Homo sapiens: one gene and its partners. The protein of the gene in region 4 purifies or fractionates together with the protein of the main gene of each other region. This does not show direct contact. Each region holds a gene or a part of one and is shown on either strand. Other genes may lie near its edges.

Region 1 (7,021 bases), on a different chromosome or scaffold from region 4:
CACAGTACCAGTCTGCAAGGCCAGTGGATACCTAAACGCTATGATCTCTTCCCAAACTGAGTATACTGTCGAGGAACTCTGTCTGAAGATCCAACAACAGCATTATACAAGATATCAAAAGCCATTCTGAAAATAGAGACTTCTTCAGCTGCCTTAAAGTCCAACTCTGGCACTTTTTCCAGTAGTGTTGATGCTGAGGCATGCATACCTTGGTAAATAAATTCATTTTGAAGAGATACACCAACACTTCAAGGGCTTCAAGAAGGACATTAATAACTTAGATTAGGAAGACTACTCCTGGGTAGTTGGGTGGAATGTCTCCTTCCATGTTAAGTCAAAATATGCCTGGGGAGACTTCTTGATTGTACTGCTCCATCCAATATCAGGGCTCACATGGCTCCTTCTCTGCTCGTGATTGGTAGCATCTCGCCAGTGATAGCACTCATGCTGTGTCTTGGTTGGTGGGTTCCCCTATTATCTAATTTCACAGATAAAAAAAATAGGCTCAGACAGGTTAGGTAACTTGCCAACTTCTCATAGCAAGTAAGTGGTAGAGCCCAATTTTGAACCAAGGTTTGTCTGACTCTAAAACCTATATTCTTAACTATACTGCTCTCCTGGTGGGAAGGACCCCTGGAGAAAACAATGAATTCTAATAATATGCTATTTAAAAGTCACGAGGGAATCTACACAACCACTCCAGGAAAAAGCAAAAATCAGAAGTTAAAGAAAAGGAAATCCATCAAAATTGGAAATGCAGATAAGGGAATTACCAATTACTGGATGACATCTCCAAGATGTAAAGCCATGTGATGCAAGATGCTATACATTTAGTGAAGAAAGATACATGAATCAAAACTACATCCCACCTGTAAAAGGATCTGCTGTGGGTAGTGTGTTAGAAGATCCCGAAGAGCCCGGAACATACCGACCACCACCTGTGCATGCAAAATAAAGAAAAGGCAGAAGTGCACCAAAGTTCTGAATTTTTCAAACAGCACAATGCTTGTTTTAGAAGAACCTACATTTGGAGAAAAACAGAAGAGCAAAACTTTCACATGATAGAATGACAGAAACTATAGTCAGAAGTCTTATAACTGGGAAAAAACTGAAATTTTAATGATTCTCCAAGTTTTGTTTTCTTAACTTTAATGCTTTATTATACCTTAGCCCCAGCACTTAAATATTAAAACTTAATTCAAATATCAAAAGAGAATTGCAGGTAATATCTGACCTAAATATATAAACATACAATCAATTCCTGTCCCTGTTCCTATACAAATTCACAAGAGTTCCTGCTGTTGTTATTGTTATCAAAACCACAGGCACTAAATGTTAATCATTTAGAGCTCTAGGTTCATTAATTCATGTGTCAAACAATGGACTCAGGGCTGGGGATCCAGAAGGGAACAAAATTGCTTATATCCACTGAAGCTTACAACCTACTGGAGAAGAGAATTAGAAAAGGGATGAAAACTACAAAGGAAAGAGACTTCCATTTATACATTTACGAATGTGTGGCGTATGTGCCTATGTTTTGTTAGTACCTCTAGGGAAATAATCAGGTTGTCCACAAAAAAAACAAAAAACAAAAAACAAAAAACAGTAAGGATGCTGAAAAAGTTAAGAGTCTCAGAAGGGCAAAACAAGCCAAGTGCTTCCTAGATTTCCAGACAAAGTCAGCTGCTTTAATTCCTTTCCTGTATCCCACATGCAAAATAGCTTACACAGTACTACAATCTGTGTTCACTCTTGAACTACAGTCTGAAATTCCAACAACAAAAATATCCACATACTAAACAATTATTTTCTTTTTAAGTGCAAGTATTTGGAGGATCAGATCATCTGTAATTCAGTAGTAAGTTACTTTGATAATTTTTTTTAAAATTTTTTGATTTTTTTCAGACGGAATCTTGCACTATCGCCCAGGTTGGAGTGCAATGGTGCGATCTTGGCTCGCTGCCACCTCTGCCTCCCAGGTTCACGTGATTCTCCTGCCTCAGTTTTCCAAGGAGCTGGGATTACAGGCGCACATCCATCACACCTGGCTAATTTTTTGTATTTTTTTTTTTTTTTTTTTTTAGTAGAGACAGGGTTTCGCTATGTTGGCCAGACTGGTCTTGAACTCCTGACCTTGTGATCTGCCTGCCTTGGCCTCCCAAAGTGCTGGGATTACAGGCGTCAGCCACCACACCTGGCCTGATAATTCTATTTAAATCAACATGCAGGTAACATTAGTTTTATTTTATGAATGGGCAATGAAATTTTGAAGTAGAATGAGGAGATAATTTGGGAATGTGGAGTAGCTGTCAGGGAAGAAAAGGTGGATCTACATAAGGATTTGAGACAGGAATATAATACAAAGTCCTCGTAAAACAAGGAAGAGCACTAGCACCTGAAAAATGTTGAGTCAGAAATGATGAGAGGAAAACATTAACAGTAAAGTGCCTATCTCAAAATGTTATTTAGAGGAGGCATTTTATTTCCTCCTACACCAGTCTCCAGAACTCACGTTAATATTACTAGGATTAGATTCCACTTCCTAGGGGCCAGAATTTGGACTAGTACCATTAGGATTACAATTTACAGACTGGTATGAGCACCTAACTGCATTTATAACATGAGATACGATGTATACGATGTTACAAACAATTAACTTAAAATGAACGTGTAGAATACACATCACATATAAACTAAAACTACCCATAGGGTTCACTTTTAGATTTGATGCATGACTGACCAATTTAGCCTCATGTGAAAAAAAGATTTACTAAATTTTGCCAAAATATAATTTTTTAAAAGAAACACTATATAAAAGAACTTACAAGTTTATTTTTGTTTCAAATAACTGAAATTCCATTATAGTATGATTGTATTTTTGAAAGACAACAATTTACTATTATTTCTGTAAAATACAGAATTACTTCATCATTTGAGGCTTAAACATATGAATGTGAAGTAAAACCCTGCTGTAGATATTGGTATTTATTGAAAAAGCTAATCACATGACTATTTGAAAACATCAAAAAAATCAATCAACACTAATGGAACTACATAAGACTCAATATAAACACTAACTTACCTGTAAATGGATCTGAAAAGCTGGGATTCCCAAGTCCCAACATTTGACCTTTTGTGTTATCAATAATAAATTTAGCTACTTGATCCAGAAACATAGGATTCAAATCATTCTTCTGTAAGAAGTTGTATGCAGTTAACCAAGGGTCATCACTGGTATTATATGGCAATTTATATGATGGTCCACCTTCATTGACATCAATTGAGAAAACATAATCAAATTCCTAAAGTAGGAATATAAAAAGGAGATACATGCTTATTATCTGTTCACATATATTAATGACATATACAACATAACACAGATGTGTTCTTTAATAATTACAGTACTTAAACTTTCTCCAAAGTGCAGTGCTAAAATCTTCGTTTTTGGCAGATAAAGATTAACAGCCCCCATCTGCATGTGATGCAAAATTAGTATTTCATTAGGGGATGGGGGTGAGGATGAAGGATGGATTACAACTACATATTAACTCTAGAGCCAAAGCAGAGTTTCCAACTGGTTTGATATCAAGATCAAAATTATCAGCTGTTACTGTGCCCTACTCACCAAAACGTGCTGGCATTTTAAGCACTGCCCTGCAGGGTCTCTCATGTCTTGTCAAGTTAAATATAGCCAGGCATGAGGCATTTGATGAAAGGTGGCACAGAAGCTCCCAATCCAAAATGGCTGGGAACAGCTTTTGTATAGAAACTACTACATGACAGACAATTGCTAATTTGTCTCTCAAATGCAGCTCTCACTACATGGAAAGATACTTTTAAAATATCTATTTCAAGACAGGGAAAAAAAAGATTAGTTTCCCACAGTAATGGATTTTTAAATGTCAAAACAAAGGAAATTTTATCACTATGGGGCAAAGGAAACCTTTAATTTGCCTAATATTTAAGACAATAGTAATTAGAAAGTAGAAGTCGACATACTTTCCCTTCATATAAAACTTTTCCAGATGTTTGCTGATTAGCACCAGATGAGCCAACAACATCACCAATTTTTATCCACCTCCCTTCACTAACACTCCACTGATAGGCTTCGACTTTCTCCCCATCTCTGATTAGACGAGTCTGTCCTTCTCTAGTACCTTAAAATAAAAATTTTAAGAATCAAAGGTAGAATGGCAATGTAAAATTGAAAAACATTTAAATAGAAAATTCTTAACATTAAAATTTACACATAAGAGAATATGGATTTTGTTTCAAAATAAAATTGTATCAAATAAAAGATTTAAAAATGTGGCCAAAAGAAAATAACAGTTAAAAGGAAATATTATTAATCAAAGGAAGGTTAACAAAACGTGATTCTACTAGGAAGCAACTGGCCCATCAAAAATAAAACAAGTTTTATTAGTGAATATATCTTCCTAACACATTTCATTCCGTAAATGGCTCTCCATTAATCCAGTGGCTCAAACTGAAAAGTAGAAAAGCCTGATACCTTTCTCTCAACCCCATCGCTCCTTCGGCTACTTCTCAGCACCCCCTTCAGCTACTGCTATCAGCTCATTCTTTAAAATATATCTAGAAAACTGTCTCCTTAATATCTCCATCATCATCCCTTGGTCCAAGCCACCATCATTTCTCAGTTGGGTTGATTCAACGGCCTCTTTCCTGTACTCTTGGCCCCCGACAGTGTATATTCCACCCAGCAACTTCAGGAATTTTTTCAAAAGTTTAAGTAGGTCCTGACACTCTTCTGCTTGAAACCCATCAATGCTTTTCATCTCACTTGGTAAAAGCCTAAACTCTTGAGTAGTGTACAAGACCAAATATAAATTGTCCACACTATCCTACATGACCTTACTTTCTACTATTCCCCCTGTCCCCTCATCTCCCAACTTCAGCCACAGAGCCTTTGTATTAGCTGTTTATTCTGCCTATGATGCTCTTCACACAGATATTGGCAGTATTTGCTCCTTTCCCTCTTTAACAACTTTACACAAATGTCATGTTCTCAACAAGGCCTTCAGTGGCGGAGACAGCTATCCATCCTCCGAAGAATCATGCTCTTCTTCCATTAGATACAGCTGTAGTTGTCTAGCCAGAGACTACATTATCTAGTCCCCTTGCATTGGGCAGTCACATGATGTCACATTACTGAGTAATGGTCAGTGGAATCTGGGTGGATGTGATATATGCCAGTTCTGGCCTAGTCCATCATACTTTAATCTCCCCTCTTACCCCATCTTAATCTGTTTCAATTTGTTATTTTGGTTGACTACAAAAAGAAAATCCAGCCTAACACACGTAGGTAGTTGAAAAAGAGAAGACAAGTCTTTTCAGAAAATGTGGATAGGCCAGAAATACTAGTTTTTTAAACGCTACAGTGTACAATCTGAAACCACATCAATGAATTTTTCATGCTCTATTATACTAAAATCCACTGGTCTATCTTGTACTTTGAATGGATCTTTTACCCATGTCTGAGATGGTATCAGATACTAGTCATATGGAAAATAATGGTTCAATAACTTACGCAGATCTTCTGCATATTCATACAGTTTATTATTCAATATTAAAAAATGGCATTTGTTAATGTTATTACCACTAGTATCAATACAAATGGGAAGCTACTAAGTTCCTGGTGGAGATACATTTTTCCTACATTTCAATTTTCACTCAAACACTTGAATTTTATCTTTGGCAACATATATTATCAGTTATTTTCCTTGACGGAACATGCTCAATTTGTTCATTTTCAAAAAACGTCTGCCAAATACCAAAGCCTGAATAACCGTAGTCATTCTTTCAAATAAAAATAGCACTCCATGAAAAAACTGGTAGTTTAGCCTGCAACTCAAATGACTGCGCATGTTCTTTTCTTTGAGACACCACAGTATTTTGACTTACTTTATGTCTACTTTAGGTTTTCTCACCCGGAATATTTAAAAAGATGTGTCAAAATGTAATAAAACTGATAATTCTTAATATTAATACCTCATCAAGGACATGCTTAATGGCAAACTGTTTTTTTTTGTTTTTATTGTTTTTTTTTTTTAAACTACAACTGCATGCAAGTAGAACATAGTAACTTACCAGAATGGTTTAAAGCCCCTGGCTTGATTTACATACTAGTGAACCAGTGGTTTTACCCACCATTGTTTTTGCACCATAAGTGCAAACATTAATACAATGTACAACATTCAAATAATATCTAGTATTACAAAAATTAGTTTTGACCTCATGGACATCCTGAAAGGATCTCAGAATCCCCAGAGGTCCATGAATCAAGCTTTGAGAAGCACTGGTATAATAATGCAATCAAGAGATACATCCAACCCAAGATTTCATTTGAGATGACTACGGTCTTCTGATTTCAAACTCGAATGATTCCCAACTCATTACACAGACAATGCTTGATTTTAACTCATTTTTTTTTTTTTTTGAGACAGAGTCACACTCTGTCACCCAGGCTGGAATGCAATGGTGTGGTGTCGGCTCACCGCAGCCTCAACCTTCTGGGCTCAAACCATCCTCCCACCTCAGCCTCCTGAGTAGCTGGGACTACAAGCGCATGCCATCACACCTGGCTAATTTCGTATTTAAACTCATTTTAATATTCAGTTTGTAACCCCTCTCAGAGAATCCAATCAACCAAAAAGTATTAAATGAGTGCCTTTTGAGTGTCTACTGTAAATGATCTAAGTGTTGGGAGATTTATTTTTTAATTCCTGTTTATGAGAAGCTTAATTCAAAGTCTTCTGTGAGACAGAGGCAAGAACATGGTTTCTCATAGTGATTATATGTAATAGTAAAAATCCTCAAAAATCAGCATCTAGCAATGAAAAACACAAGCAAAACAACATTTATTTTTCTTCTAATTGTTCCAAAAGCCAAATATGGTGAATTTTTTCTACTAGGTACAATAAAATACTTACCAGGTTCATTAAGATGTTCCCTCCCAGGAAGCTGCTCAGCATTGATGTCCCCTAAATCGCCAGTTTTAGAA
Region 2 (7,961 bases), on a different chromosome or scaffold from region 4:
AGGGGAAGGTCTGGAGGAGGCCAAAGTAGACGAGGTTGGTGAATAGGCCCACTCCAATCATGCTGGTGGGGAAGCGCTCAAAGACGTAGAGGCCAATCAGTACAGCGGTGGAGAACTGAAACAACCAGAGGCAGACAGTGCAGGGCGCTTCTTCCAGGCAACGTTCCTGGACTCACCAACCCCCAGCCCGCTCTGGGCAGCACTAGGTTCATGCTTCAATCTCCTCATTTCACAGGTCTGGCCTCCCCAGCTAGGTTCTCTGCTCCCAAAAGGCAACATTTTTTTTTTTTTTTTTGAGACGGAGTCTCACTCTGTCATCCAGGCTGGAGTGCAGTGGCGCGATCTCCTGGATTCAAGCAATTCTCTTGCCTCAGCCTCCTGAGTAGTTGGGACTACAGGCATGCACAACCACGCCCAGCTAATTTTTGTGTCTTTAGTAGAGACAGGGTTTTGCCATGTTGGCCAGGCTGGTCTCAAACTTCTGATGGCCTCCCAAAGTGCTGGGATTACAGGTGTGAGCCACCGCACCCAGCCCATTTCTCAAACTTTTTGACAGCAACCCACAGTAAGAAAAACATCTGCCAGGCGAGGTGGCTCACGCCTGGAATCCCAACACTTTGGGAGGCCAAGGCAGGCAGATCACCTGAGGTTGGGAGTTTGTGACCAGCCTGACCAACATGGAGAAACCCCATCTCTACTAAAAATACAAAATTAGCCAGGCATGGTGGCACATGCCTATAATCCCAGCTACTCGGGAGGCTGAGGCAGGAGAATCGCTTGAACCCAGGAGGCAGAGGTTGCGGTGAGCTGAGATTGTGCCACTGCACTCCAGCCTGGGTAATAAGAGCGAAACTCCATCTCAAAAAAAAAAAAAGAAAAAGAAAAACATTTTACACTGTGACCCCAACACATATATACATATATATGATTCAAAGCTCAAATTTCAATTCTATTTATGTTCCTTTTTTTAAAAAATGCTGATTGTGACCTACTATACAGCCAAATAATGAATCATGCCTACAGTTTGAAAAACACTACTGATAAGTACCTACAGTTGTCAGTGCTTAGCAAATGACAGTTGGCTGAATGAAGGGCTAATTACTGTGCCAACACCCACAAGCTGGGCCTCTGGACCAGAGCTGAGGGCTATAGTCTTGCCTCCACTGTGAACTCCCAACCTCAGCCATGCCCAGAGTGCACATGGCTGCTGACACCAGGCGACTTGAGGGGCTGTGGACGCTTTCTCTCCAATGGCACCCCTACCCCCAGCCTTTCCTGCAGCTGAAGGAAGTCTGTCCACCAGCAGTCACCCCTATGGCTTTGATATCAGTGGCAAGGACTGTGTCTTCAGTAAGAGAAGCCTCCCATGAGACCAGGGAAGGGCGAGGGCAGCGAAGCTGTGCCGATCTTAGGACAAATCACTTGATCCGATTAGAAAGATGGCAATGAACATATATGCAAAACTGTCTTATGGCTCCTCTAAGTTTTAAATGCTGTGAGCAGAGCAAAGGGCTAAAGACAGCGGGAGAGAGCTAAGCAAAGTCAAATCTACGGTCTTGTCAACAGAGAAGTACACTTCGCTGTCACCTTAAGGACTAGAGCACAAGGCCTGCAGTGAAACAATGCCACTTGGGGAAGGCGGCCAGGGAAGATCTGGGCCCAGGAGTGCAGACCCAAAAGACAGCGTTCAGGGCAAGGAGGTAAGAGTGTATGCTCAGGAAACAGCAGAGACACAGGCCTCATCATCCATGCCAAACTCTCCCCACTTCCTGCTTTTGAGGCAGGGCAAAAGAGTGAGGAGGACTCCTGGAGAAAGATGCCACTTACCCAGATCATGTATTTTATGATCCTGCTGGTGGCCACTGTGTATTCTTCTATCAGTTCTGCCAGGTAATAGAGTCCAGCCGCTGCAGGGTGGGAGGCAGGGAGACTATCAGCCAGGGTCACTCCCACCATCCTGGTCACCCCTCTCTCTGCAGCCCAGTCCCCATCCACCCTTCATGGACCCCAGAAGGTCAAGAACAAACCAAACATCCCATGTGTTGCCCTTCCAAGTCTGGAGAAGTAAAACTTTCTTAGGGCAACTAAGGACAAATCTCATAAAAATCAACGAAAGTCTGCATTTGATGCCACAGTACAATGATAACCTCTGGCTCAGAAAACGGAATTTCACGTATTCAATAAACACCTGCTGGGCACTTGGCATGAGCCAGGTCCCTGGGCTGAGAATACAGCTGAAAAAGACAGACAAGGGTCCTTCCCTGACCCAGCTTGGGAAAGGGAAGGGGAACAGTAGGGAGAGACAGACGAGTTTAGTGTGAGAAATGCTACTTTAGGGAAAGGACAGGGCACTGCTGGACCATCAACCCCTGTGGACTTCCCGGAAAAGATGACATCTCAACTGAGGCCGAATGGGAACCAGCCAGAGGAGAAGTGTCAAAGGTGGAGAGAGCAGGGAGCATGAAGGGCCAGAGGCGCAAAGGCGGCGGTAGGCGTTGGGGAAAAGTTCCGCGCGGCAGGCCCGCGAAGAGTGGGAGCCGCAGCGGTTAGCGGTCCGCAGACGCGGGGGCGGCACTCGAGTCACCCTTTCTCGGGCAGTGCCGGAGCGGACTCTGTGACACCTGGAAGGAGCCACGGTCAGGCCGGGCTGCCAGGCTCGACAGGAGGGGCAGGATCAGGCGGGAAGGGGTTGGGGCGGCGAAGGCCGGGAGCGCCGGGCAGTGGTCCCCCGAGTGGCTCCGAAACCCCCGCGATGCGACCCCCAACGAGCACCGATGCCGGGGCGGGAGCCCGCGCGGGCCGGGGTCGTGCAGTCTCACCGACAGCCAGCGTGATGAAGGCCACCTGGATGAAGAGCGACAGCCAGCTCAGCAGGTACATGAACCACATGGCGCCCCCACCCGCCCGCTCCCCGGCCACCGGGACGGGCCTGCGCGCTTCGGCTCCGGCGACACACAGCCGCCACCGCCGCCGCCGCCGCCGCGTCCCCGCCCCGCGGACGACAGGACGACGGTGCGCCGCCGCCGAGAGGAGCCCGGCCCTAGCGCTGCCCGGGGCCAGGCTCGCGCTAGCGCCGCCCGCCGGAGAGGAGGGCCAACCGCCGCTGCCCCGCCAGGATCCCCCGCTCCACTGAGGGGAATGAATGCAGACCGCTGCAGCCAGAGGGAGGCGGGACGGTGCCCAGGGGCGGAGACGACCAAGCGCCCATACTGGGGCTCGGAGTGCAGCCTCCAGTCCCTCCCTGTGCACTCCCGTACCAGCCTGGAGGTGGTCCAGGGCCGGACAGGGCCGCCCGACCGCGCCCCAGCAACCTCCCCAGAACCTGCCTCCCGGCAGGTTGCGGACAAGTCTGTCTCTTGCTATCGCAGGTGATAGGGACAAAATTATTGAATTCCTAATATGTGCCACGCTCTGTGATAAAGGCGAGGTGTGTTCTTGTCGGAAATTTGAGCAGATAATGTAAATCATTTTATAGACGGGGAAGCCGGGGCCAAAGGAAGTTGCCCTGGGTCATGCACCTAGGAAGCGGCACAATCAGGAGTTGGGGTGATTTTAATCGGTCATCCTCCGGCCTAATTCCCCTCTAGGCTGTTCTTTTGGGGTACATTCTGCACCTTTGTATCGCCTGCACCTCACCCCTTGCCGGGCACGCAGGGCGTCCGCTAGGCGCTGGATGCATTTACTACACCTCTGGGAGGGTTCCTGAGGGGCACCTGGAACCGGTTAGTCCTTGTCAACAAGTCTCCCATCTAGTGGCGGAGACAGGCATGCAAAATAAAGTATGTAGAACAAGAGTCTAGTAGGCTTATTTCAGAATCATATTTTTCCTGCATAAAAATACGTATTCCTAAAAAAAACAATTACCGTATGATTTAGCAATTCTACTTCTGGGTATATACCCAAAAGAACTGAGAAAGCAGAGACATTTGTATACCAATATTCATAGCATTATTCACAATGGTCAGAAGAGGGAAGCAACCCAAATGTCCATCGGTTGACGAAAAGATAGACATAAAGTGCTATAAACATACAATGGAATATTATCTAGCCTTAAAATGAAGTGAAATTCTGACACATGCTACAACATCAATGAACCTTGAAGGCATGATGCTAAGTGAAATAAGCCAAATAGGGAAGGACACACATTGTATGATTCCCCTCATATGAGGTACCCAGAGTAGTCAAAATCATGGGCAGAAAGTTAAATGGTGCTTGCCAGGGTCTGGGGGACAAAGAATGGGGAGTTACTTTTTAATGGATACAGGGTTTCAGTTTGGGAAGATGGATGGTGCTGATGGCATCACAACAGTGTGAATGTGCTTAATGTCACTGAATTGTATACAGTGTTACAGAATTGTAAAATGGTTAAAACGGTCAATTTTATGTTATGCATAGCTTCCCCCTCCCCCCAACAAAATACATAAGATTACAAAGCCCATCCTGGCTAACACGGTGAAACCCAGTCTCTACTAAAAATACAAAAAATTAGCCGGGCTTGGTGGCGGGCGCCTGTAGTCCCAGCTACTCAAGAAACTGAGGCAGGAGAAGAGCGTGAACCCGGGAGGCAGAAGTTGCAGTGAGCCGAGATTGCGCCACTGCACTCCAGCCTGGGCGACAGAGCGAGACTCCGTCTCAAGAAAAAAAAAAAAAAAAAGATTACAAAGCAGGCTGGGCACAGTGGCTCATGCCTGTAATCCCAGTACTTTGGGAGGCTGAGGTAGGAGGATCACTTGAGGCCAGGAGTTCAAGACCAGCCTGGGCAAAGAAAAATTTTAAAATGGCCAGGCATGGTGGTGCGTACCTGTAGTCGCAGTTACTCTGGGCTGAGGCAGGAGGATTACTTGAGTCCAGGAGATGGCGGCTGCAGTGAGCTATGATTGGGCCACTGCATTCCAGCTGGGATGACAGAATGAAAACTTGTCTCAAAAAAAAAAAAAATTGCAGTTGCCGGGCGCGGTGGCTCACGCCTGTAATCCCAGCACTTTGGGAGGCCGAGGCGGGAGGATCACGAGGTCAGGAGATTGAGACCATCCTGGCTAACACGGTGAAACTCTGTCTCCACTAAAAAATACAAAAAAAAAAATTAGCCGGGCATGGTGGCGGGCGCCTGTAGTCCCAGCTACTCAGGAGGCTGAGGCAGGAGAATGGCGTGAACCCGGGAGGCGGAGCTTGCAGTGAGCCGAGATCGCGTCACTGCACTCCAGCCTGGGGGACAGAGGGAGACTCCGTCTCAAAACAAAAACAAAAACAAAAATAAAACAAAAAAGATTACAAAGCAAACCAATTATATAGAAATGCAAGTATTAAACTATTTTTAGAAAACCAAATGTATTCTGTAATTTATGTGCTTCTCTATTAATATATGACATAAGCAGACCTATTGCAAAATCTAATAGCTACCTACCACAATGACAAAGTAGGAGTGAGGGTAAATGATATTTCAAGATATCATTAATCATATGAGAGAGTTATAGATAAAAATAGAAACTTTTCTCCTTCCAAGTTTCCAGGCGTCTTAAAATTGTCTCCCTAAATTCTATACCTGCTGACTTCTAAGGGGTCCCTGGACCCCCAGTTAAGAATACCTGAGAGATATGTATATGGGGCATGGTGGGGTGGCTCACGCCTATAATCCTAGCACTTTGGGAGGCCTAGGCAGGAGAATTACTTGAGCCTAGGAGTTCAAGATTGACCTAGACAACAAAGTGAGACCCCATCTCTACAAAAAATTTAGAAGTTATCCAGGTGCAATGGTGCCGGTAGTCCTGGCTACTCAGGAGTCTGAGGTGGGAGATCGCTTGAGCCTGGGAGTTCAAGGTTGCAGTGAACCAGGATCACACCACTGCACTCCAGCCTGGGTGACAGAGTGAGACCTTAAAGGGCTATATCCTTTTTTTTTTTTTTTTTGAGATGGAGTCTTGTTCTGTTGCCCAGGCTGGAGTGCAGTGGCACGATTTCAGCTCACTGCAACCTCTGCCTCCTGGGTTCAACCGATTCTCCTGCCCCAGCCTCCTGAGCAGTTGGGATTACAGGTGCCCACCACCACATCCAGCTAATTTTTGTATTTTTGTAGAGATGGGATTTCGCCATGTTGGCGAGGCTGGTCTCAAACTCCTGACCTCAAGTAACCCACACACCTTGGCCTCCCAAAGTACTGGGATTACAGTTATGAGCCACTGCACCCGGCCTCACCATATGCTTATTTACAAGGCTTTTCATTGCAGCACTGTAAGAGACTGAAAACAACCTAAGTGTTCATTGATAGGAAACTGGTTAAGTATATTTAGCCCTAAAAGCCAATGAGGGTGTTCTTTATGTACCTATATAGGACTATTTTTGAAAAAAAGCAAAAGAATGGGGAAAAGAATCTATATACACATTTTTTGCAGGGAGGGACAGGGTCTCACTCTGTCACCCAGGCTGGAGCACAGTGACAAGATCATGGCTCACTGCACCCTCAACCCACAGGGCTCAAGACATCCTCCCACTTCAGCCTCTCAAGTAGCTGGGACTACAAGTGCATGCCATAACACCTGGCTGATTTTTTTATTTTTATTTTTTGTACAGATGAGGTCTCATTATGCTGTCCAGGCTGGTCTTGAACTCCTGGGCTCAAGCAATCCTCCTGCCACAGCCTCCCAAAGTAGTACTTTGGTAATACAGGCATGAGCCACGTCACCCAGGCTACACATTTCTTTCTATAAAATATCTCTGGAAGGATACGTTAGAAAACAGTAATATTGCTTGCTTCCTAGGAAGAGAAGGGGTGGGGTTTCAGAGTAGGAAACAGCATTCCCACTGTATGTCTTTTTATATCCTTAAAATATTGAACTATGTAAAGATATGGAAAGGTGTTACCTATTCATAAATGAAGTTTACAATTAAAATGTTCATAATATGATGGGCCTGCTAGGATGTCTCCAATTTCCTGTTGTTACCCAGTCCCTATGTGAGGAAAAACCATTGAGTTGTGCCTTACTGGTAAGTTTGCTAACCTTAGGTCATGGGACTTGGTCATCCCTGATTGTTCCAATAGGGGAGCTTCATGTCCAGATCTTTTCTATTGAGGAGTTTGTATTGGAGACACGGAAGCATCAGTGAGTAACGGCACAGTAAAGTATCTCTCTCTCACTCTCTCTCTCTCTCTCTGTCTCTCTCATTTATTTACTTATTTGACATGGAGTCTTGCTCTGTTGCCCAGGCTGGAGTGCAGTGGCACAATCTCAGCTCACTGCAACCTCCGCTTCCCGGGTTCAAGCAATTCTCCTGCCTCAGCCTCCCAAGCAGCTGGTATTACAGGCATTCACCACCATGCCCAGATAATTTTTATATTTTTGTAGAGATGGAGTTTTGTCATGATGGCCAGGCTGGCCTCAAGTGATCCACCTGCCTCAGCCTCCCAAAGTGCTGGGATTACAAGCATGAGACACCACACCCAACCAGTAAAGTCTCAATTGGTATTTTTTTTTCCCTAAACATCTTCCCAGGGAAGGAGGAAACTATAAAAATATCCCCCATCCCTCTCCAGAATTGTAGATAAGGGAAACTGGAGGCCCCAAAAGGTTAAGTGCTTTCACCTTTGAACCAGCCTTGTTTTTCCAGGGCTGGGCACTTTCACTTCCCACAGTTTTAAAGCCAAAAGTAGCCTGAGAGAGGTAAGGCTGAGGATTCAAATTTCCTCCGATGGCAGGAAGAGAGAGGCCACCATTTCCTGAGAGTGGTGAGAAGTCAGGTCCACCTGACCCAACAGGACAGGGCGGGGCTCAGGGAGGATCCTTAGGCTGTGTTTGGGGAAGGAGTTACAAGGGGAGCAAACCCAGGCCTTGCCTGAAGGAGGGAAGGAAGGATAGCAGGTCCCCACACTCAATTCAAGGGACTCATTTCAAGAGTGAAAGGGTTTGGAGGTTCAAAGGTGACTGACCAGTTTGTTGATTTAAATATTGACAGGTGGCCGGGCATGG
Region 3 (7,021 bases), on a different chromosome or scaffold from region 4:
AGTATATCAAGTCATGATATACTTTGAAAAATAAAAACATAAAGAGGACAGAGATGACAGGTGAGGCAGGGGGTGGGGTAGTGAGAGAATGAGTGGGCCGTTTGTAGACTGGATGGTCAAGGAAGACCTTTGACATCTAAATGGAAACCTGAGTGAAGTAAGAGTGCAAGCTGTACAATTAATTTGGGAAAAGAGAGTTCCAGGCCAAGAGAACCATGAGGCTCCAAGGTCATATTGCCCCTGGTATATGGGAACCGAAAGTAGAGGGAGCAATAGGGAAAAGTTTAGGAGATGAAATTGGAGAGGAGGCCAGAAGGTAGGTCCTGCTGGGCCCTGTGGTAAGGACTTTGAACCTCAAATAAAAAGCCAAGAAGGTATAATGTTAAACCATAGATCTGTGAAGGCATTTTTATAAGGAACTAAAGTAACAGTCTAACTCTAAGAACATTAAACATAATTCGGGAGCATATATAGAATATGTACTTCTATCCTAAGTTAATATTTTACTGTGTTTCTTCTCTGTATATAGATTTATGTGGTCCAGGGCATATATGGCTATCATCATTATATGCAGGATCGCATAGATGACAATGGCTGGGGCTGTGCTTATCGATCTCTGCAGACTATCTGCTCTTGGTTCAAACATCAGGGATACACAGAGAGGTCCATTCCAACACACAGAGAAATTCAGCAGGTACAGAACATACCGTTTTAAATTATAATCAACTGTATGTTTCATTAGCCCTTAATATACCATTGATAATTTTTGTTACCTCATGGTGCAGACTTATTTCTGTTTTGAAGAAAAAAAAATTCTTGTACTGGTAATCAGGGAAAATGCCCTAAACATCGTTTTTAATAGCTGTCTTGTGTATGGATGTTTTATATTTTTAAATACATCAAGGCTCTAGTCGATGCCGGGGACAAACCAGCAACATTTGTCGGATCGCGGCAATGGATTGGATCTATTGAGGTGCAGCTGGTACTAAACCAATTGATCGGTATAACGTCAAAAATCCTGTTTGTCAGGTAAGCACACTTTAAGAAATTAGATAAATCATTTCAAAGTGACAGTCTGTCATTTTAATTAAAATAATAGAAAAAATGGTATCTTCCCTTATTTCTTTTTATTCCTTTTCCTTCTTCCTTATTACTCATTGCTTTATAAATCTCATTTTTTAATCTTAATTTTTTTTCATTTTTTTTTGGAAGGCTCTGATTTTATGAATAAACTTTGTGATGTAATGTATACTTGTATTATTTAGGCCTAATTTTAGCCTAGAAGAGGAAAACTTAAAAATATATTAACGTTGAGTAAAGTCATAAAAATTATATTAACAGTTTCTTTATGCTCCAATCTTTTAAAAAGTCTTAAAAGGCAAAACTCAAATGTTGAACTATGACTGACCTTTTTGTTTACCTCCTGCTCTTTTTCTTTCTAAAACGTTAATAATCTAGTAATGTGTTCAAATAATGTATTCATTTTGTCTTTTCCAATGATCTTAACCATAATTCTAATATTAAAATGAGAAAATATAAATTAATTATTTTCTATGACCATAACTAGCTGACTCCTGATTGTATGAGCTTATGTTTTAAAATACATTTTCTAGCCAGGTGCAGTGGCTCACGCCTGTAATCGTAGCACTTTGGGAGGCCGAGGTGGGTGGATCCCCTGAGGTCAGGAGTTTGAGACCAGCCTGGCCAGCAGAGCAAAACCCTGTCTCTACTAAAAATACAAAAAAAATTAGCTGGGTATGGTGGCGCATGCCTGTAATCCCAGCTACTTGGGAGGCTGAGGCAGGAGAATCGCTTGAACCCAGGAGGTGGAGGTTGCAGTGAGCCAAGATCATGCCACTGCACTCCAGCACAGGCAACAAAGCGAGACTCCCTTTCAAAAAAAAAAAACAGAAAAATACATTTTCTAAAAAAAAAAAAAAAAAAAAAGAAAAGCCAAAAAACAAATAAAATACATTTTCTATTGTTAATTACAGTAACATCGTCCTCATTGTATCTTTTATGTGTTAAAGATGTAATTTTATCCTTTCCTCAGTGGTTATGGAAATCAGTGGTAAAAAAATGACAGACTGGCTGGGCACAGTGGCTCACGCCTGTAATCCCAGCACTTTGGGAGGCCAAGGTGGGTGGATCACCTGAGGTTGGCAGTTTGACACCAGCCTGGCCAACATGGTGAAACCCTGTCTCTACTAAAAATATAAAAATGAGCCGGGCATGGTGGCACACGTCTGTAATCCCAGCTACTCAGGAGGCTGAGGAAGGAGAATCGCTTGAACCTGAGAGGCGGAGGTTGCAGTGAGCTGAGATCGCGCCACTCCACTCCAGCCTGGGCAACAGAGCGAGCCTCCATCTCAAAAAATAATAATAATATAAAACAATGACAGACTTAAGTAGTGAAGAACTTTTTTTAAAAGTTACAGTTTTGGTACATTAAAACATACGTTCCTCATTAAGCAAGAGCTAAGGTTTAGCACCACCGGGCACCTTCCCCCAAAAAATACCTCCCTTCATTATCCCATCTATCTTTCTCTTTTCAAAAGTAAAAATTCTGAGATTCCCTAAAAATAGTATGTTGCACTTGAAAACATTTTGCAGTTTTCACATTGATTTCACAGACATGTATTTTAGGCCTAGACTCTCCTCTGTTATGTAGACAGGTCAGCGTTTTGGGTCCCAATTTAAAGATGAGGAAATACAGACTAAGAAGTCTACCAGCAAGAAGGCAAGAACCCAGGACTTAACACTCATTCTTCTGATTAATCCATCCATAAGAACTCCCTGAGCACCAAGGTGATGTTTTAACTTCATGTTAAAAACCCAGGCCTCCTTTATACAGTTCAAGAAGCAGAAAATCAAGGTCTTTTAGCGTCTTATCTAGCACACTTGGTGGCCTTAAGTATTTTGAGTTTATGTTGCTTTAAATTGCACAGTTTAATTGCTCTCAGTTCCCTAACACTTAATTTTTTTACATTTATATATTTTTTCAGTAACACCCGAAAAAACAAGAAAGTAGGAAACATTGTCTCCTAGCTCATTATTTGACCGTAGTGTTGGAAGTAGTTCATCTGATAGAAAATGGTTTCTTTCTAGCCAAGGTTCAGAAATTGCCTCTCAAGGACGGGAACTGGCTAATCATTTCCAAAGTGAAGGAACTCCAGTTATGATCGGTAAGCTGTTTCAGACACTGTTTTTGGTAGAGTGAGTAATATGCAAAACTTATCATTGATATAAATATTTAATGTTGCATAAAATCAGTCATTTAAAAAATTTTGAAATTAACTTTTACACCATATGTATGGATCTCTGGATATTGAAAAAAATTTCTAAGGTGGCTTAAAGGTTACAAAAAAGATTATAATAACCAGAAGAAGTAAAGGCTGAGAAATGGTAGCTATGTTCAAACATTTAAAGAGCTGAGAACAGTATTAAAAAGAGGAAACGGTCACTCAGCTGAGCTTCGTAAGTCATGACTCTGTCATAACTGGGCTGGCTTTGTGAGATTTTGCAATTACTTACCTCTGTGGATTTTATTTGTAAAATAAGAAGATTGGATTAGCTGATCTAAAGATGCTTAATTCTTTGAAGAACAAGACCTGTCCTGTGATGACAGAAGGCAAGGTGAGACTAGTGTGTAAGAAATGGAGGTAGAAGCTGGGCATAGTGGCTCACACCTGTAATCCTAGCACTTCGGGAGGCTGAGGCAGGAGGATAGCTTGCATCCAGGAATTCAAGACCAGCATGGGCCAGACCGCGTCTCTACCAAAAAAAAAAAAACACACAAATTAGCTGGCATGGTAGTGTGAGCCTATAGTGCCAGCTATTCAGGAGACTGAGGTGGGAGGATTGCTTGAGCCCAGGAGGCTGCAGTGAGCCAAGAGATCCACTGCTCTCCAGCCTGGGTTACAAAAGTGAGACACTGTCTCAAAAGAAAAAAAAAAAAAAAAGAAATGGAGGTAGGCTGATGTCAGCAAAATATCAGAAAGAACTTAATGAGTAGGCCGGGCCCAGTAGCTCACGCCTGACTCCTGATTGTATGAGCTTATGTTTTAAAATACATTTTCTAGCCAGGCACAGTGGCTCATGCCTGTAATCCAGCACTTTGGGAGGCTGAGGCGGGCGGATCACTTGAGGCCAAGAGTTCGAGACCAGCCTGGCCAACATGGCAAAACACTGTCTCTACTAAAAATACAAAATTTAGCTGGGTGTGGTGGCACACACCTGTAATCCCAACTACTTGGGATGCTGAAACAGGAGAATCGCTTGAGCTGTGAGGTGGAGGTTGCAGTGAGCCGGGATTGCCCACTGTACTCCAGCCTGGGTAGCAGAGCAAGACTCTGTCTCAAAAAAAAAGACTGGGCACAGTGGCTCACGCCTGTAATCCCAGCACTTTGGGAGGCCAAGGTGGGTCGATCACGAGGTCAGGAGATCGAGACCATCCTGGCTAACAGTGAAACCCCGTCTCTACTAAAAAAAAATACAAAAAATTCGCTGGGTGTGCTGGTGTGCGCCTGTAGTCTCAGCTACTCAGGAGGCTGAGGCAGGAGAATTGCTTGAACCTGGAAGGCAGAGGTTGCAGTGAGCCGAGGTCACGCTATCGCACTCCAGCCTGGGTGACGTGAGACTCTAGCTCAAAAAAAAAAAAAAAAAAAAAAACTTAATGAATGGAGTGCTATATCACTGGAGGTACTCAGAGGCAGCAGGACCATCTGCTGAGAGAGGCACTACAGCAGATTGTTACTCTGTTGGGAGGAGTTTATGGCCCTTTCTAAATCCATTTTAGGTAATTATATGGATGTGAATGTAGAATATAAATTGTATGTGATTATAGATATGATTGTATCTTTTGTGTTAAAGATGTAATTTTATCCTTTCAGAGTATATCTGACATTGTGTCTTTTATAGTGTAGGGTAGTCCATTTTAATGCTATTTTAGATCAGTTAATAAGCAAAGTAATGTTGTTTTTTTTTGTTTTTTTTTTTGAGAGTCTTGCTGTGTCGCCCAGGCTGGAGTGCGGTGGCATGATCTCGGCTCAGTGCAAGCTCCGTCTCCCAGGTTCATGCCATTCTCCTGCCTCAGCAGGAGCTGGGACTACAGGCGCCTGCCACCAAGCCCAGCTATTTTTTTTGTATTTTTTTAGTAGAGACAGGGTTTCACTGCATTAGCCAGGATGGTCTCCATCTCCTGACCTCGTGATCCACCCACCTCCCAAAGTGCTGGGATTACAGGTGTGAGCCACCACGCCCGGCCGTAATCTGTCTATTTAAATTGAATAGGCATTTGACATTTGTTTATGCCTTCATTCGTATTTCCTATTTTTTCTTCTATAGGGGGAGGAGTTTTGGCCCACACAATACTAGGAGTTGCATGGAATGAGATTACAGGGCAGATAAAGTTTCTGATTCTAGATCCACATTATACCGGTGCTGAAGACCTGCAAGTTATTTTGGAAAAGGTAAGTATCCATTTAACACAAATTGAGACAAAAGGCAAAGAAGCTAGAAATGAAGGATCACAAACTGGCTGGTAACAGAAAGACAATAAGCTGAGGGCAGAGATCTCCCTGTGTGGAGGCCTTCTGAGGCTGTTGTAAGTAGCCGTCTCTGTATAGGGAATGTGCAAGAACAAAGCACATTGCAAAAGACAAAATTTAGGTTTATAGAAACTTTCTCAGCTATTAAAATTAATAATAGGACACACACTCATAAATATATTCCTTTGGAGATTTTAGAGCTTTCATAAACAAATGTATCAAAGTTTATCAATGTCTTAAAATAGATGAGCAGAATATATAAACTTTTAAAATTTTAGAATTAACCAAAAGATAGCTAAGCAGTATGCTAGACATTATGGAGGCTTGACTAATTTTAATTCATTTACATATAACCTAATCTCATTCTATAAAGGGTTTGAAGTTGATACATATTTAAGAGTATTCTTACTTACAATAGCAGATAAAGGAGGTAAAAATTTGTTAATTCATAGGCAACTAATTCTCACATATGAAAACTCAGTACCAAGTCTTTAGGAGAAAGTATTGTAAAACATAATTAACTTGAATTTTAAGTAACATTTATATTCGCTGCCAAATACATTGAAATTGCAGAGAATACATAACCACCTTTTAAACTATAAACTAAAGATAAAATGTTTTAATATGTTAAAGAGTTTTAAGCCAGGCGTGGTGGCTCACACCTGTAATCCCAGCACTTTGGGAGGCTGAGGTGGGCAGATCACCTGAGATCAGGAATTCGAGACCAGCCTGGCCAACATGGTGAAACCCCATCTCTACTAAAAATGCAAAAATAAGCCAGGTGTGGTGGTGGGCGCCTATAATCTTGGCTATTTGGGAGGCTGAGGCAGGGGAATCACTTGAACCCGGGAGGCAGAGGTTGCAGTGAGCTGAGATGGCGCCATTGCACCCCAGCCTGGGCAACAGGAGTGAAATTCCAGCTCAAAAAAAAGTTTTTAATGTGTGTAGTCCAACTCTGTTATATCCTCAGTTTACTGAAGTCTTTTGTTTATGATAAGGGTATAAACACTAATAGGATAGAAATGTGTTGTTACAGTTTTAAGTGTTTTTTTTTCCTTTTCTCTTTCACAGCATTTGGAATTTGAAGTCTATAAAAGGTTTTTTGACTGGTGCATGTATCTTACTGAATATAGTAGCAATATTCTTGTTCTGTAGCAAGGTGTTCATTCCATTCAGTATTTATTAAAGTACCTAACAAGTGCCAGGCACTGTCCTAAGCACTAGTATTACACGAGGTTTTTCGGGAGCTAAAACCTTTAGGGTAGGACAGAGAAGGAGAGTGCAAAAAGGACTCTCGAGAAAAAAAAAATGGTATCTCAGGTGCTTCTACGAGGCTGGTGCTGTGGTGGCCCCTGCCTTGTAGAAACAGTGAAAGCCGCACTGCAGGTAGATCAGTGCGTCCAGAGCTAGGCGAAGAGGTGAGGCTGGAAGGACACACCAAGCTCAGTCAGAAAGGGTGGTCTTTGTGAACC
Region 4 (7,596 bases):
CATTGGTGGTTCAGGCATTGGGGAAATATTCCCATTCCAAAAAGGAGAAATTGCCCCAAAGAAAGTGGCAACAGGCTCCATGTAAATCCAAATTCCTGCAGGCAGACATTAAACCTTAGAGCTTAATAATAATCTTTGACTTTGTGTCCCACATCCTGGGCACATTGGTGCAAGGGGTGAGCTCCCAAGGCCGTGGGCAGTTCTGCCTGTGGCTTTGACAGGTGTAGGCCACGTGGCTGCTCTCATAGGTTGGAGATGAGTGCCTGTAGCTTTTCCATGTTGAGGTTGCAAGCTGCTGATGACTCTACACTTCCCTATCACTCCCCTAAGACTCTTCCACACACACACCCCTCAGCCCCACAGCAAAGGCAGGGGGAGATTCACAACACAGGCTTTGAGGCCTGTTTTCTTCCATCTCCTGAAAACACCACCTACCTCATCTTTCCTTTTCCCCAATAGTTTTGAGCTACGTTCTTTTGGATACATGTTATGGTCACATGGGTGAAAATTCAAAATGCATAGCAGAGTCTGTCCCCAGAATCGCCCAGCGTCCATCTAGGCTGCCCTGGGCCTTGGTTTGCTCACCTGGAGGATCTCAGAGGTGCTCCAATATCAATAGTGAGACTGCCCACACCCTCCTCTAGGGCTGTGTGTGATTCCACTGCATGGATGGACTCTGATTGTGTAGCATCTCCCAGTGGAAAATCATGGCACTAATTTTATCGTACTGCAGAAACACTGTAATGAATAATCATAAATCTACTTCCACAAGCAATATCTGAGTGTATAGCATAGTTCCTAAAAGCAAAATATAGCAGTGTTATACGTTCTTTCTAATTTTAATAAAATGAAGTTGTTCTCAACTAAAAGTGGGCAAGTTTACATTCCCAACAGTGAGCTGAGAAGGTGTGTATGGCCCTGCACTTCAGCCTGTATCAGTGTCTGTTCCATCCACCAGTCTCTTTCTGTATCATTCCTCCTTGTCTTGATCACTGTCTTTCTGACCCTCTGTCTCTTTCTCTACAGCATCCACCACCTTGGGGAATGGCTCAGCCCTTCCAGTCCTGGAAAGCCAGTCCCTGTATGTGGTCTGTGCTGTTGACAGCAATCCCCCTGCCAGGCTGAGCTGGACCTGGGGGAGCCCAACCCTGAGCCTCTCACAGCCCTTGAATCCTGGGCTGCTGGAACTGCCTCAAGTGTATCTGAGGGACGAAGGGGAATTCACCTGCAGAGCTCAGAACCCTCCAGGAGTGATGCTGCAGGCGGTCAAGGGGGGCTGGAGCCCCAGCCTGGTCTTCCTGTCCTTTTGTGTCATCTTCATCGTGTGAGCATTGACCCTGGAGAGGAAGGGAGAGCCCTGGGGGAGGGTGGCCTGGGAGCAGAATCCCTGAAGCCGGAGCTGGAAGGACCTGGCTGAGTCAGGAGTATGAAGCAAGGGAGAGAATGAGCATGGGTGCATGGTGAGAATTTCATGAGTGCCCTTGTTTGTGGGGCCACATGTCTGTGACAAACCTCGGGCCCCATTGTCCAGGAAAAAAGAGCCTCTGTTTTCAATGTTGGGGTCTCTGGGACTACAGCCTGCTTGAATTCCTCCCCTGAAAATGGGCTTTTCTTTTCTACCACTTGGCCAGGCTGCAAATTATCCAAACTTTTACACTCTGCTTCCCTTTTAAATACAATTTCCAGCTTTCAGTGATTTCTTTCTTTGCTCACACATGAGCATATGCTGTTAGAAGCAACCAGGCCATGTCTTCAATGCTTTGCTTCTTAGACATTTCTTCCACGAGATACTGAAAATCTTCACTCTTGTGCTCAAAGCTCCACAGATTCCTAGGGCAGGGGCACAATGCAGTGAAGTTCTTTGCTAAGGCATAACAAAATGGACCATCGCTCTGGTTTCCAATAAGTTCCTCATTTCCGTCTGAGACCTCTTCAGCTTGGCCTTCACTGTCCATATCACGACCAATATTTCAGTCATAACTATTCAACCAGTCTCTAGGAAGTTTCAAACTTTCCTTCATCTTTCTGTCTTTTTGTGAGCTCTCCACACTCTTCCAACTTTTGCCTGTTAACCAGTTCCAAAGTTGTTTTCAAATTTTCAGGTGTCTTTGTAGCAATGCCCCACTCCTCTGTACCAATTTTCTGTATTAGTTCATTCTTCCATTGATATAAAGAAATACCTGTGACTGGGTAACTTATAAAGACAAGAGGAATAATCGGCTCGTGGTTCTGCAGGCTGTACAGGAAGCAGGATGTTGACATCTGCTTGGCTTCTGGGGAGTTCCTCAGGAAACTTACAATCATGGCAAAAAACAAAGGGGAAGCCAGCATGTCACATGGCCAGAGTAGCAGGATAGAGCAAATGGGGAGATGCTGCACACAGACAACAAGCAGATCTTGTTAGAACTCACCCACTCTCACAAGAACAGCTCCAAGAAGATGGTGCTAAGCCATTCATGAGAAATCCACCCCCGTGATCCAACCACCTCCCACTACAACCCACCTTCAATATTGAGGCCTATAATTCGGCATGAGATTTGGTGGGGACACAGATCCAAACCATATCAGGCTCTAATCCTATTAGGCTAATCCAAACCACCTATCTAAACACCATGCCTTCTAATACTATCACATGGGGGTTCAAAGGTCAACAAATGAATTTTGAGGAGAGACATGTAGCTGTAGCACTTGTCACTCTGGTCCTTAATATCTTCCTCTCCAAATTATGGAAGTGGGTCTAGAGGGCCCATCAGCTCCTCTGAGTCATATGTGGTTCAAACGTTCTTCCTTTGCAGATTCTCTGTGGCTTCCTCATGTCTCTCCTTCCCATTTTTCTGCTTTTCTTTGCCAACTGGGGACTGTGGGAAAGAGATGGGCCGTGGTCGAGCCCTTCTTCCCATTGAGATGCTGCAACTGTCCTTACGGGAAGAAAGTGACACGGCAAGGATGGGGGCCCAGGAGCAGATTGGTCTGCAGGATGAGATACAAGCTGCAAATGCAGGAATTAGTGGTGTCAGGGAGAGGAGCAGCTATGCATGCCCCAATCCTGCACATTTCCTTTTCAATTATCACAGCCAACTGACTCTACTCCAGGTTATGGGCAATTGGGGACAACATGGGGATGGGAAGATCCATGGAGCTGAGTAAAATAAAACAGATTGTGGTTTTTATGTAAAAATAGTCTTTAGAAAAACCTATGCAAAGCCATAGTATTGAAGGCAGTGCACTCAGATGATAAAACTACATAGAAAAGCAAGGAGACCATTATCATTAAAGTGAGGCTGGGGCATCTTCAGGAGGAACTGCATGTGGCCTATAGGAAGGGGAAACACAGGGCTGAATAAATGAATGCAATTTCTTTCTTCATCTCATGGGAGAAATTTGGCAATTATCTTGTGATGTTCTATTTCTTGAACAGTGATAATTTGGTGAAAATCACTGAGTCATTTTTTTAGGTGGCACTTTTATTTACTTGTATTACATTTCCCCAAAAATCATTGTTTCAAGAAAAGCTGACATGGGTCTAAGGAGGGCGAATCTTGCAGGATTTTCCCCACCTTCCTCCCAGTACATAGCATACAGTTTCAAAAACTCTTCTGCTGAATTCAGGTGCATTTCTTCTCCCATGAAATCCTGTCCATCATTGAGCGTGGACACGCCAGGGCTGGTGTCCTCGCTCCACGTCTCCTGTTCACCTGAAACCCTGGGAGCAGAGCCTGCAGGAACAAAGGGCCAGCAGACCCCTCATGCTCTGGAGTAAGGAGGACTTGTGAGAGAGCAGTGGTGAAGGATCCCATCCTGAACCCAGAGAGCCATGGCCGAGAGAGAAACGCCTGCCCCTTTAGAAATCTGTCCCTTCCCATCCAACATTCCTCCCTTCCAGACCTCACTGTACAACAGTCACAGCCTTAGCTTCTCAGGCCTCCTGTGAACTGGGCTCTTCTCTGTGTCTTTGGTGTGTATCAACACACGGAATCCTCACCTCCACGACCCCGTGTCTCTCTGCTCAGTCCTCCCGAGACTGATTCCCCAACATAGGAGAGAGCGACCACACCCTGCCTGGTACCCCCACTGAAGCTCCTGCCATGGAGAGCTCAGATATCAGGAGCCTCAGTGTCTCCCCACTACACAGTGACTCTTTGGGGACAGTGTCTAGCTCTGCTGTGTTGAACTCCACCTCACGGCCGCTGAGGGAGGAAGGAGAGGTTGCCTGCTCATCCCACCTGCACCCCCATCTCTTATATCCTAGTGTCACCTCTGACCTACAGAGAGACATCCACAGCCTGTACTTCATAGGTCTGGCCACATGGGACTCATTTTCACCTTATGGAAAATATCACCCAAGGGGAAGGGCACTGAGAGGGAGGCAGTGGGCGGGGTGGGCCCTGCATGGGGTTGGAATCTGGGTGAGTCTTTCATCCTCTCTGGCCTCAGGGTCCCCAGGAGTGGACGGGGTAGTGGACGGTGGATCTTCCAGGGGTGACCCGGCCCTGACAGTGTCTGTGTGTGAAGTTCCTCCTGTGAGGTCACCGTTCAGAACCCACCCCCAACTTCCTGTGCGGCTTCCTCGAAATCTTGAGTTCTCAGTTCCTGAGAGAAGAACCCTGAGGAACAGACTTACCTCAGCAACCCTGGCACCTCCAACCCGACACATGCTACTGCTGCTGCTACTGCTGCCACCCCTGCTCTGTGGGAGAGTGGGGGCTAAGGAACAGAAGGATTACCTGCTGACAATGCAGAAGTCCGTGACGGTGCAGGAGGGCCTGTGTGTCTCTGTGCTTTGCTCCTTCTCCTACCCCCAAAATGGCTGGACTGCCTCCGATCCAGTTCATGGCTACTGGTTCCGGGCAGGGGACCATGTAAGCCGGAACATTCCAGTGGCCACAAACAACCCAGCTCGAGCAGTGCAGGAGGAGACTCGGGACCGATTCCACCTCCTTGGGGACCCACAGAACAAGGATTGTACCCTGAGCATCAGAGACACCAGAGAGAGTGATGCAGGGACATACGTCTTTTGTGTAGAGAGAGGAAATATGAAATGGAATTATAAATATGACCAGCTCTCTGTGAATGTGACAGGTAAGGCACGGGCTCCAAGAGAGGCCAAAGGCAAATGTGATGAGGGCTTTAGGGCACGGCTGAGACGGGACACATGTCCTGGGAGGGGGCCGGGGGTGATGGACTCAGGGGAGGAGCTGGACCAGAGCCTGAGCTTCCCCAGGACCGCACCTTGGATGCCCCTCCTGATCCTGCAAGCCCCTCCCCTCACCAGCCCTGACCCACAGGCCTGACATCCTCATCCTGCCTCTGACGCTGGCACTGTGGCATGTGGGGCCTTATGACTCCTTGTTTTGGGGCCTGTCCTAGGCATGGCCGGGGTTTAGCACCATCCCAGGCCTCTCCCCACCAGATGCCAGAAGCACCCACCCCACCCATGCAGCGAGACAATTATCTCCACACATTGTCAAACGTCCTGGGGGGTTAAGTCCTCCCCAGTTGAGAGCCTTAGGTCTACACAACCCCGTGACTCTCTCAGGCCAGGCCAGGGAGGAAGCACTTCCTGGCGCAAACCAAGGGCAGCAGAGGCACCTGAGCCTGGACAGGGAGACTCAGCACACGGCCCCTCCATCTCTCATGCCCCGAGGTCCTCGGAGATCCACATTTAGATGCTCAAAAGACAGGAGGGACCTCCACGATGGTCCAGAGGCCGGGAGGGCAGGACCTACGTGTCTGGTGCAGGCCCTGGTGCTTCAGGGAAGCCCGGAGGTAGGAGGCGGGACACGGTCTCTTCTCCTCCCTGGGTGGGTCTCTAGGGTCTCTGAGCTTTAGGGTTTCCTTCACTCTGTGCAGAGGGAATGAGTTCCTATAGCATGTGGGTTTGCAGTTTCTCTTCCATGCAGGGCTGAGGTCTCCAGCTCCTCTCCAGCCCCCTGTGGGTCCCACAGCCCTGCCCCTCCTCTCCCTCCCCCTTCTCTGCTCACACAGGGAGCCCAGGAAGCCTCTGCCTCAGAGATGCTGCTGCCCCTGCTATGGGCAAATGAAGAGAGGGACAGTGGGGGCTGGGCTGACCCTCGTTTCTCCACAGCGTCCCAGGACCTACTGTCAAGATACAGGCTGGAGGTGCCAGAGTCGGTGACTGTGCAGGAGGGTCTGTGTGTCTCTGTGCCCTGCAGTGTCCTTTACCCCCATTACAACTGGACTGCCTCTAGCCCTGTTTATGGATCCTGGTTCAAGGAAGGGGCCGATATACCATGGGATATTCCAGTGGCCACAAACACCCCAAGTGGAAAAGTGCAAGAGGATACCCACGGTCGATTCCTCCTCCTTGGGGACCCACAGACCAACAACTGCTCCCTGAGCATCAGAGATGCCAGGAAGGGGGATTCAGGGAAGTACTACTTCCAGGTGGAGAGAGGAAGCAGGAAATGGAACTACATATATGACAAGCTCTCTGTGCATGTGACAGGTAAATCTCTGGCTCTAGGACCAGCCAGAGGGGAAGGCCCGAGGGCCGCAGGGTAGGGCTGAGGTGGGACCCCCATCCTGGGAGGGAGTTGGAGGTGAAGCATATCTGGCTCAGGGGAGGAGTAAGACCAGAGCCTGAGCCTCCTCAGCACCACACTTCAGACCCCAACACCCTCATTTTGCCTGTCTCCCTTTCATCACCAGCCCTGACTCACATGCCCACCTTCTCCATCCCGGGGACCCTGGAGTCTGGCCACCCCAGGAACCTGACCTGCTCTGTGCCCTGGGCCTGTGAACAGGGGACGCCCCCCACGATCACCTGGATGGGGGCCTCCGTGTCCTCCCTGGACCCCACTATCACTCGCTCCTCGATGCTCAGCCTCATCCCACAGCCCCAGGACCATGGCACCAGCCTCACCTGTCAGGTGACCTTGCCTGGGGCCGGCGTGACCATGACCAGGGCTGTCCGACTCAACATATCCTGTGAGTTCTGGGCCAGGACGTCTGGGTCTTTGATCGGGATTCCTTGAGGCCAGTTGGATGTGGGACCCAGACTCAAGGATCTGGGTCCTGGAATCTTGGCTGGGAGTTGGGGGTCAGGAGGATGCTGGCTCCACCTTCCCCATTTATGGGGCTCCTGGGGAGACAGGGTCAGTGTCCCCAGTCCTCAAAGTGATGGGAACTCCGTGTCTTTCTGTTCCAGATCCTCCTCAGAACTTGACCATGACTGTCTTCCAAGGAGATGGCACAGGTAAGATGGAGTCCTCTCCCTGGGGCTGGAGGAGCAGAGCCTTCAACTCAGGGGAGAGCCAGGACTCACCCTGGTGACCTGAGACCCTTTTGTGGGTGAGCCCCGGCCCCCCCCTCCCTCAGCCTCAGCCTTTTGGCCACCTGAGCACCTTCTCATCACCCCTTCACTCCCCTTGAACTCCTCCACACACACACCTATTTTGGCCCCACAGCAAGGGTAGAGGGACATTCACACAGCAGCTCAAGGATTTGAGGACTCTTATCTTCCAGCTCCTGAATATTGCCTCATCCTTTTATTTTCACCAATAGTTCTGAGGTATATTCTTTTGGATACATACTATAGTCACATGGGCAAAAATTTATAATGCACAGCAGAGTCTG

Evidence for each region.
Region 1: the proteins of SIGLEC12 (region 4) and PLAA purify together in Homo sapiens (affinity purification with mass spectrometry; 2 studies listed by BioGRID and IntAct, with this or other methods). This does not show direct contact.
Region 2: the proteins of SIGLEC12 (region 4) and TEX261 purify together in Homo sapiens (affinity purification with mass spectrometry; 2 studies listed by BioGRID and IntAct, with this or other methods). This does not show direct contact.
Region 3: the proteins of SIGLEC12 (region 4) and UFSP2 purify together in Homo sapiens (affinity purification with mass spectrometry; 2 studies listed by BioGRID and IntAct, with this or other methods). This does not show direct contact.

The regions. Positions count from the first base shown.
Region 1 is NC_000009.12:26,916,228-26,923,248, forward strand, and holds part of PLAA (phospholipase A-2-activating protein), read right to left. Parts: coding exon 6,951-7,021; intron 4,158-6,950; coding exon 4,000-4,157; intron 3,303-3,999; coding exon 3,083-3,302; intron 1,022-3,082; coding exon of another isoform or gene 939-1,021; coding exon 870-938; intron 479-869; coding exon of another isoform or gene 390-478; exon of another isoform or gene 1-389. UniProt on the Homo sapiens protein: Plays a role in protein ubiquitination, sorting and degradation through its association with VCP. Involved in ubiquitin-mediated membrane proteins trafficking to late endosomes in an ESCRT-dependent manner, and hence plays a role in synaptic vesicle recycling.
Region 2 is NC_000002.12:70,991,869-70,999,829, forward strand, and holds the start of TEX261 (protein TEX261), read right to left. Parts: upstream 3,006-7,961; 5' UTR 2,890-3,005; coding exon 2,820-2,889; intron 1,908-2,819; coding exon 1,828-1,907; intron 116-1,827; coding exon 1-115.
Region 3 is NC_000004.12:185,401,944-185,408,964, reverse strand, and holds part of UFSP2 (ufm1-specific protease 2), read left to right. Parts: exon of another isoform or gene 1-529; coding exon 530-694; intron 695-904; coding exon 905-1,029; intron 1,030-3,005; exon of another isoform or gene 3,006-3,108; coding exon 3,109-3,185; intron 3,186-5,346; coding exon 5,347-5,471; intron 5,472-7,021. UniProt on the Homo sapiens protein: Thiol-dependent isopeptidase that specifically cleaves UFM1, a ubiquitin-like modifier protein, from conjugated proteins, such as CD274/PD-L1, CYB5R3, DDRGK1, MRE11, RPL26/uL24, TRIP4 and RPL26/uL24.
Region 4 is NC_000019.10:51,498,790-51,506,385, reverse strand, and holds the start of SIGLEC12 (sialic acid-binding Ig-like lectin 12 isoform a precursor), read left to right. Parts: upstream 1-4,585; 5' UTR 4,586-4,652; coding exon 4,653-5,079; intron 5,080-5,992; exon of another isoform or gene 5,993-6,012; coding exon of another isoform or gene 6,013-6,085; coding exon 6,086-6,466; intron 6,467-6,669; coding exon 6,670-6,948; intron 6,949-7,168; coding exon 7,169-7,216; intron 7,217-7,596. UniProt on the Homo sapiens protein: Putative adhesion molecule that mediates sialic-acid dependent binding to cells. The sialic acid recognition site may be masked by cis interactions with sialic acids on the same cell surface.